Linked DNA regions of Homo sapiens: regions 1 and 2 are each linked to region 3. Evidence: fine-mapped expression QTL. A gene starts in region 3. Each other region holds a variant in brackets. All regions are shown on one strand. Distances are between the middles of the regions.

Region 1 (2,684 bases), 160 kb before region 3:
AATTTCATAAGGGGATAGTTGATGTTTCCCAAGGTGGACCAGAGGGTAAGAAGCACCAGGGGAGTGCTTTAGGCCAACAGAGGTGAAGTCCATTTATGAACTTAGCCAATTGTGTTTTAATTATTCCATTGGTCCTTTCCGCCAGCTCTGAGGACTGGGGATGGTAGGCACAATGGAAATGTTGAAATATGGGCCAAATTTCACAAATATTTTGAATAACTTGACCAGGAAAATGAGTTCTTCTATCACGTAAAGTTCACAGTGGACTCCCCACAGTGGAATAATTTTTTCTAATAAAGTTTTCCAACTGCCATCGCTGTTGCTTGCCTGCAGGGAAAAGCTTCAACCCAATGGGAAAACATGCAGACCATTACTAAGACATGTAACCTTGAGAGGATGGCGGCTGGATAAAATCAAGCTGCCATACCTCAAAAGGTCCAGCTGGAAGGGGAAAATGACCCTGGGCCTCATGGAGGAGCTTCCGTGGATTATCCTTAGGACAAATAGCACACTGGGAATAAACCTTTTGTGCCACTGTGGAGGATCGTTTCCAGTAACATTGTTTACACTAGGATATACTTTTATCTGGATTCCATCGTGTCAGATTATTAACACATTCCTTAAGGGGCACCTGACATCCCATTGGAATAATGGTTTATTATTAAGTCCATACAATATTTTAGTTTCAGGAGACAGGTATTCCCCTGTCTGTTTCCAAGTGGATTTCTCTTTTGTTGGGGCTATACTCTAGGTTTCCTTCAACATGTTTTTAAGTGTTTCAGGCTTTATGATCATTTTTTTGGATTGGGTCTGGTGGCTTGAATGCTGCTTTTTCAGCTGTAGCAATAGCAAATTTGTTATCTCCACTTTTAGTGGTGTCCAATGTAGAGTGACCTGGGATTTTTACAACTGTCAAAAGTTTTGGTTGAGAATAGTTTCTAACAGCTCTGAGAGTTGGTTGTCCATTTTTTATGGGTTGCCCTGAGGAGGTTAAATATCCTCTCTCCTTTCACATTCCGAAGTCCTGAGCAACTCCAAATGCTTAGCAGGTGTCAGGGTATGTTTGCAGCCTTGTCTTTTGCTAATCGACAAGCTTGAGTCAGGGCAATCAATTTGGCCCCTTCAGCTGATTTGGCTTGAGGAAGAGGACCAGCTTCAACTACCTCTAGTAAAGAGACCACAGCATATCCTGCTCTAAAATTTCCATCCCCATCCTCTTAAATAAGACCCATCTGTATACCATTCTATCTCAGCATTATCCAGTGGCATCTCTTGTAAGTCTGTCCCAGAAGTGAGAAGTTGGTCAGTCATCAGAACATAGTCATGAGGGGTTTCGTCAGAAGGACCAGGCGAGAGAGTGTAAGTTAATTATTTGGAGCATATTATCTCAGTCAAAATGTATAAAATAATCTAAAATTGATTCATTTCGGTTCTGGTGGCATTGCTGGATTTTATCCCAATCCACAACCCTTTGGAATATTGAAGAAATGGTATTTAACAGAGCAGTTGCTCATTCCCACACATCTTTGTGTCTGTGTTCTCGACTTCTGGGGGCTGGTTATTGTAGCTCTATTGGGCCTTCAAGGGTTAAGTCTGCTACAGGGTCTGACCACTGTACTTT[G/C]TCCAGCTATTCCTTAGCTTTAGCTTCCGAGACCAACATGTGTGCCAGCTGTTAGAGGTCTGAATGGCCTGGGTCATAGGTTCTGATAATGAATTCAAATTCTTGGGCAAACTCAATTGGATCTTATGGGGGCCCAGAAATTCTTTATGCCCTGCAACTCAGCCTTTGACCAGCGTTGGTAGACAATCACCGGGGTTCCCCTATGTGTTACCGGTTGTTCCCAAAACAGGGTGATCATGAGAGATGGCCCTGCAGGGTCCCCCTTTTCCACATCTTCCAGATGAGAGGCTGCCACTGGCACTGTCAGGGAATTGTCAGGAGGTAGGGTCTTGGAAGTTAGACTCCCTACTGCCTTCTGTTGAGTGAGTGGTGTACAAGGAGAGGAAGATGTTAAATTAGAACATGCAGGAGAAGGAGGGAACAGATCTGGTCCGGGAAGTTCAGAGAGGTCAGGGGTAAAGTGGGGGTGTAAGTGGAGGTGGGGAGGTGCCACAGGGAAGTAAGGGATTCTGGGGATTTCTTTAAGAGAGATAGAACTTTAGAGAGTCCTTGGTTAGCATTTCTAAGTTGTTTGTTGGCTTATTGTAAGGACATGAGGTGATCTTCCCCCCATTTGCTACTCTCTAGGTACCATTGAAAGTAGCTCTCCCATTCTGGTTGTTTAGTTTTGTGCCTGCGTTTTGCATCCTAGTTCACAGGTACACTAATTTGGGCATCTCAGAAGATCCCCATCTAGGCCTCTGTAGGTTAGAATCTGCCTTGATTATAGTGGTCCACTTGATTAAATATTTGCATGACAATTCACCATAAGTGTTTTTGCATATACCTGGCCAGAGTTTCTAAGGGTGGAACTTTGTGTTCCACAGCTGTGGGGGTTTCAGCCAACTTAAAGGGCTCCTTCCACATAATTTAGAGTTTTCCTTCAGATTTGACCAAGTCGGAGGGTTTGTTGGATCCAAAGTGTGCTGCTTGGGGACCTAGCTTTTCAGGGCCGTTACTCGCTGAACTGGTATCGTGGCTACCTGGCACAGTGTGTCAGGGGCTCAAGGCATGGGAGATCAGC
Region 2 (2,684 bases), 79 kb before region 3:
AGTGCTTCAATGAACATATGCGTGCATGTGTCTTTATGATAGAATGATTTATATTCCTTTGGGTATATACCCAGTAATGAGATTTTTGGGTCAGATGTTATTTCTGTTTTTAGGTCTTTGAGAAATCACCACACTTTTCCACAATGGTTGAACTAATTTACACTTCCACCCACATATTATTTGTTTTCATATTATAGTTCTCACCATCTGGTAGATGTATAAGCATTCCTTTTTCTCCACAACCTCACCAGCATCTGTTATTTTTTTGACTTTTTAGTAATAGCCATTCTGACTGGTGTGAGATGGTATCTCATTGTAGTTTTGATTCACGTTTCTCTAATGATCAGTGATGTTGAGCATTTCTTCATATGCTTGTTGACTGCATATATGTCTTCTTTTGAAAAAGTGTCTATTCATGTCCTGTGCCACCTTTTTAATGGGGTTTTTTTTTATTGTAAATTCGTTGAAGTTTCTTATAGATTCTGGATATTAAACCTTTGTCTGATGCATAGTTTGCAAAAATTTTCTCCCATTCTGTAAGTTGTCTGTTTACTCTGTTGATAGTTTCTTTTGCTATGCAAAAGCTCTTAAATAAGGTCCCATTTATCAACTTTTTGCTTTTGTTGCAATGGCCTTTGGCATCTTTGCAATGAAATCTTTGCTCATTCCTAGGCCCAGAATGAGAGGAAGTCAAATTATCTCTGTTTGCAGTTGACATGCTCCTATATCTAGACCCTTTTGGACCCATAGTCTTGGCCCAAAAGCTCCTTTAGCTGATAAACAACTTTAGCAAAGTCTGAGGATACAAAATCAATGTACAAAAATCGCTAGCATTTTTATACACCAACAACAGTCAGCTGAGAGCCAAATCAGTAATGCAATCCCATTCGCAATTGCCACCAAATAATAAAATACCTAAAACTTTGGTATTTCTAGGTGAAATATCTCTACAAGAAGAACTACAAAACACTGCTCATAGAAATTAGAGATGACACAAACAAATGGAAAAACATTCCATGCTCATGGATAGGGAGGCTTATCTTTAGAGCTTTTAAACCCTGTGGCTCTACCCACTAGAAAACTTGGTGCAAAATAAAAGAGAGAATCTCTGGGAGAAGAGAAGAGCTTTGTGAGCTTCCCCGTCCCCAGGCCAAATACACATAGAAGTTTTACCAACCCCGAGATGCTGATGGGACTGAGTCCCTGTTTCATCTGAAGCCTAGACACCTGCTACTATGGTGTCTAAATGTTAGCATTTAGATAGGAGCATGGAAGAACTGGTTATTAGCTATATCATGTTAAATATATTAATGTTTATGTTTATAAATTGCTCATCATAAAATCACAACAAAAGAGGTAAAATCAGTCTTAAAATATATATTTTAAAAATTGCCACTTTGTTTCATCCCAGAATCATGTTTTAAAGACTTGGAATATTTCCACTAGCTAGATTTCTCAGGTCTGTAAAATGTAAAGCATGAGACTCAAAATCCTAACTTACGATCTGCTAGTAATTTGTAGTTCTCTGGCTAGAATAATTAAGTTGTCATGTA[G/C]TTATCAAAAATGATGTAAATTCTTGGCTATTACAGGAATCTTAAAATGATTTAAAAATAACCCTGGAGAAAAGCTTTTTTTAATCTGACATTTACTAGTAGCAATGCTCCTTGCTTTTTGGAATGTCAGGACTCGCCTTGTGTTTTTCTTTTGTTTCCCAAGACTGACTCTATCTACAGTTTACTCTAAAGTTTTCGCTATCAGGTAGAACCATCTTCATCTTGATCTTGTCGATGACCATTGATAATTTTAATATTACTTTCCTATATTAACTGGAGTCTTCTTGTACTGAATGAACATCTTTTAACTCAGCCAACTATGGCTCAGTTGACTATTGTGAGGAGGCAGTTGGGGAGAGTCAGGAGCCCCAGACTAGGTTTCCCAAAAGGCAGGGAATGGGGCAAATAATGAATACAGTAACTGTTTGAACCATTGTCTCCCTTCTAATAAAATGTGTTTTGAGGAATACTAGTGTCATATGATTCTTCAGTTAAAAAAGTCATATGGTCAGTTCAGTTTGTGTAAAACTTTACATGATTTACCTGTCTTGTAATGCACATTAGCACATCTGAGAAATCCCCTAGTAAAATAACCTGGCTTAATATTCTTTAACCCATACTTATTCAAATTTATTTGGCCCTAGGGGCACTTTTTCTTAGGTAATCCTATTCCACTAATGCTTTATGGAGATTGGGCTCCCTGAAAATCATTTGGAGAAGAGTACTGACAGGCATTTGCCATCAAGGATCCAAGATGAAGTAATGTGCAACAAAACAAAGACAGACATAAGGCTAGAAAAGGTCAAAGCTCGTAGGAAGCTTTAAAAAAATGAAAAAGGATGGGAGGAGCCTAAGCTGATAGGTGAAGCACGAGCCTCTTGCTGGGGCAAGGAGCCTAGAGAGGTGAAGAGACTGGGGTCACAGGAAAGGGTTGCTCTGTGGAGTCTAGTAAGGACTCATATTTCCAGCAGCCAAGTTAGATAGCTGCTATTACTGCACCCATCTTACAAATAAGAAAATGGAGACTCAAAGAGGTTAAGTTGCCCACTGTCACTTAGCTGGTTGGAGGCAGAGCTGGGGTTCAAGGTCAGGGGTGATTCCATAGCCAGTGCTCTTGCCACTGTGCCACAC
Region 3 (2,684 bases):
ATTAAATTTCAGCTCTTTAGAATTATATGCCTAAATGCTGTTGGGTTTCCAAAGATAGTGGATTTCAACCCAATTTAATTTTAAAAAATGATGTTCACGCTAAACAAATAACTGTGCTGGGGTTGTAAGTAAGATCTAGTTTCTCACTTACAGGAATTTAGTGTCAAGTGGGAAGATGCAGAATGTTCGTAATTAACTACAGTATTACATGAAATAGAATGTGTTACCTGCCAAAATAGAGATCTACAGTGCAAAGAGACAAAAAGGTGAGAACTGGCTTTCACTTAGGAGAGTGAATGAAGCATTTGTGGAGGAAATGGTATCTGAACCGAGCCCCTAAAGGGTAGGTGGATCTTGCCTGTTAAAGAGAAAGAATCTTCTGGGCAGAGAAAATCACATGGGAAAAGAGATAGGCACAAAGATCTCTTGGGAGCAGCTACTTTTCCATATGGACTGGGCAGGGCACGCGAGTGAAGTATGAAGTTCAACTGGAATGTCATTGGGAACAGCCAAGGCCGAGAACTATGGAATAGTTTTGAGCCAGGGGAGATATGATCAGGGCTGTGCTGCAGAGAAAGTGGCTGCAGCAGGGAGCAGTGTGGAGGGCAGGGGGAAGAGATAAGAAGAGAGAGGTGAAGAGTTGGAAACCAGTAAGAAGGACACTTCAGAATGTGACATGAGTGAGAGAGTGGGTTTGGGCTCCTCTGTGGTAAACCTCATTTTGAAACTGGTTTCACTCGCTACCCCTGCAATTTAGGCTTTAAAATAAGACTGTCTTTGGACTTTAGTTTTCTCACCTGTGAAAGGAGAGGGTCGATGCTGGCTCAAGTCGGCCATCTCTGATGGTCTGTGATTCTAAGCATCTTATTTGTCATCTGCTACAAATCCAATTCTGGATGGCTGAGGTCACTTCTCATCCTTAAAATTTGCTAACATGAATTTGGTGTTGTTTGGTGCTGTTTGCAATTGGAAATCCCACTGATATGGCCATGATTTGGGGCAGGATTGGGAAGATGAAATCATTGAGTTGGAGTTTATTCCAATTTGCCTTATTTAAAACTTATTTCAGTTATACCAACTTTTCAAGCATGGCTGAAAAGAGAAAATATATCTTGCTGGGTTTACAAACTCGGGGGACAGGAAGTAGGTTTCCAACTCTGAACATGTGGTAGGTTACTTAGGTTACTTCTTGTAAACACAAGGATTTTACATCAGGGGCAGAGGCCAGATTTCATGACTATAACTGGAAATCTTAGGAAACAGATGAATCATATAACCCATCACTTCAACTGGAAAGCAAATGTATCCTACTATTAGAGTTTATCTCGAAATGCTTTGGGAAATCTCAGGGGGCTGGAGGAACCCTCAGCTCAAGCCATTTGTGGGATGTGTTGGTCCGGCATAGACTCCAGCCAAAAGACCAAATATTGCCTTTTGTTGTTTCCTGGAGGGAAGGATATGGACAACAATGATCTGGCCGTGGGGAAGATTCAAGGGAATAAAAATGAATCATCACCAGCCACCAGGAAGCACCAGGAGCTCTCTAAATGGAATGGAGGCCTCCCATACCTTGGGTGGGTGAGGTAAAACAATAGCTGATGAGGGAGACAGAGGCGGAGATAGGAACACTCAGCTTTACTGAGACTGGCAACCATGGTGAAGGAACTAACCAAAAGAAATATGAGCTTGCTGCTGCCCCGAATTTCAAAAGAAATCACTTCGGGGCTGGTTTCCTGTAGTGTCCCTTAGGGAGGTCATTTTTTTTTTTTCTGAGCCACCCCTGGTGATTTCCTCATCAGCTGCCCCAGCTCTAGTATCCACCATGAGCAATGTCATCTGCATAATAATGTGGAGAATGTAACCAACTATTCACTCCATGTCCAAAAGGGCTCTGTGAACTATGAGGCTACAAAGAGCCTCCAACCAGAAGACTGGAGTGCTAATTGCTGCCCTAGGAAGGAGGGTGGAGGGACATCTGCCCTCCAGTTCAGGTCCTCAGCTGCGGCTTTGGGGGAATTTTAGACACACCCTGCTAGTTGCTGGACCCTGGGACATAGGATTTGAGCTGGATTCTTTCTTGTCTTCTTGTGCTTTTTAAATAATGTAATTAATTAATTACCTTTTTAAAGCATCCTTATATCTCTCCATTTATTTTTGTCTTCTTTAGTGTTTCTAAATAAAGTCTTTTTTTAACCTTTAAAAATTAAGGATATTTTCAAACATACAAAAATTAGAGGATAGTATGATGAACCCACACCACCTAACTTCGATATCTGACCAAGTTTGTTTCACTTATGTCCCTTCCAGTTTTTTTCTAGATATGTAAAAACACATTCGAAGTATCATGTCATCTGTAAAGTCTTCAAAATATATTGCTAGCAGATAAGGAGTTTTAACAAATAACAGTACTACTATTATATGTAACAAAACTAGTAATTTTTTCACCTCACGTAATGCCCAGTGATCCACTTTCTCTTGTTGTCTAAAATGTCTTTTTTGAAGTTGGCTTGAGTTGGAAACCAAGTAAGATCTATACAAAATACACGTTAGTTCCTCTCTTCTTTTCATGCTATTCATTCGTAGAAGAAATCAGATAATAGGTTCTGTAGAATTTCGAGCTTTGGCTTATTGCATTCTTGTGGTGTTTTCCCAAGGAGCCCTTGTGTCCAGATGGTGGTCTTTCA

What was found. PIP is the estimated chance that this variant, and not a neighbour inherited with it, causes the effect.
Region 1: its variant is the best candidate, but not a certain one, in a credible set for the expression of LINC02319 in whole blood (INTERVAL, PIP 0.66).
Region 2: its variant is the best candidate, but not a certain one, in a credible set for the expression of LINC02319 in whole blood (INTERVAL, PIP 0.62).

Annotation. Positions count from the first base shown.
Region 1 is chr14:52,281,656-52,284,339 of GRCh38, reverse strand. No RefSeq gene overlaps it. Among named protein-coding and RNA genes, the nearest start is that of PTGDR, 15 kb to the right of the region's middle. The variant G/C (reference allele first, on the strand shown) is at 1,622.
Region 2 is chr14:52,202,862-52,205,545 of GRCh38, reverse strand. No RefSeq gene overlaps it. Among named protein-coding and RNA genes, the nearest start is that of PTGDR, 63 kb to the left of the region's middle. The variant G/C (reference allele first, on the strand shown) is at 1,554.
Region 3 is chr14:52,124,084-52,126,767 of GRCh38, reverse strand. It overlaps LINC02319 (long intergenic non-protein coding RNA 2319), which reads left to right and starts at 1,271. Exons shown (of 3, transcript NR_187197.1): 1 at 1,271-1,574.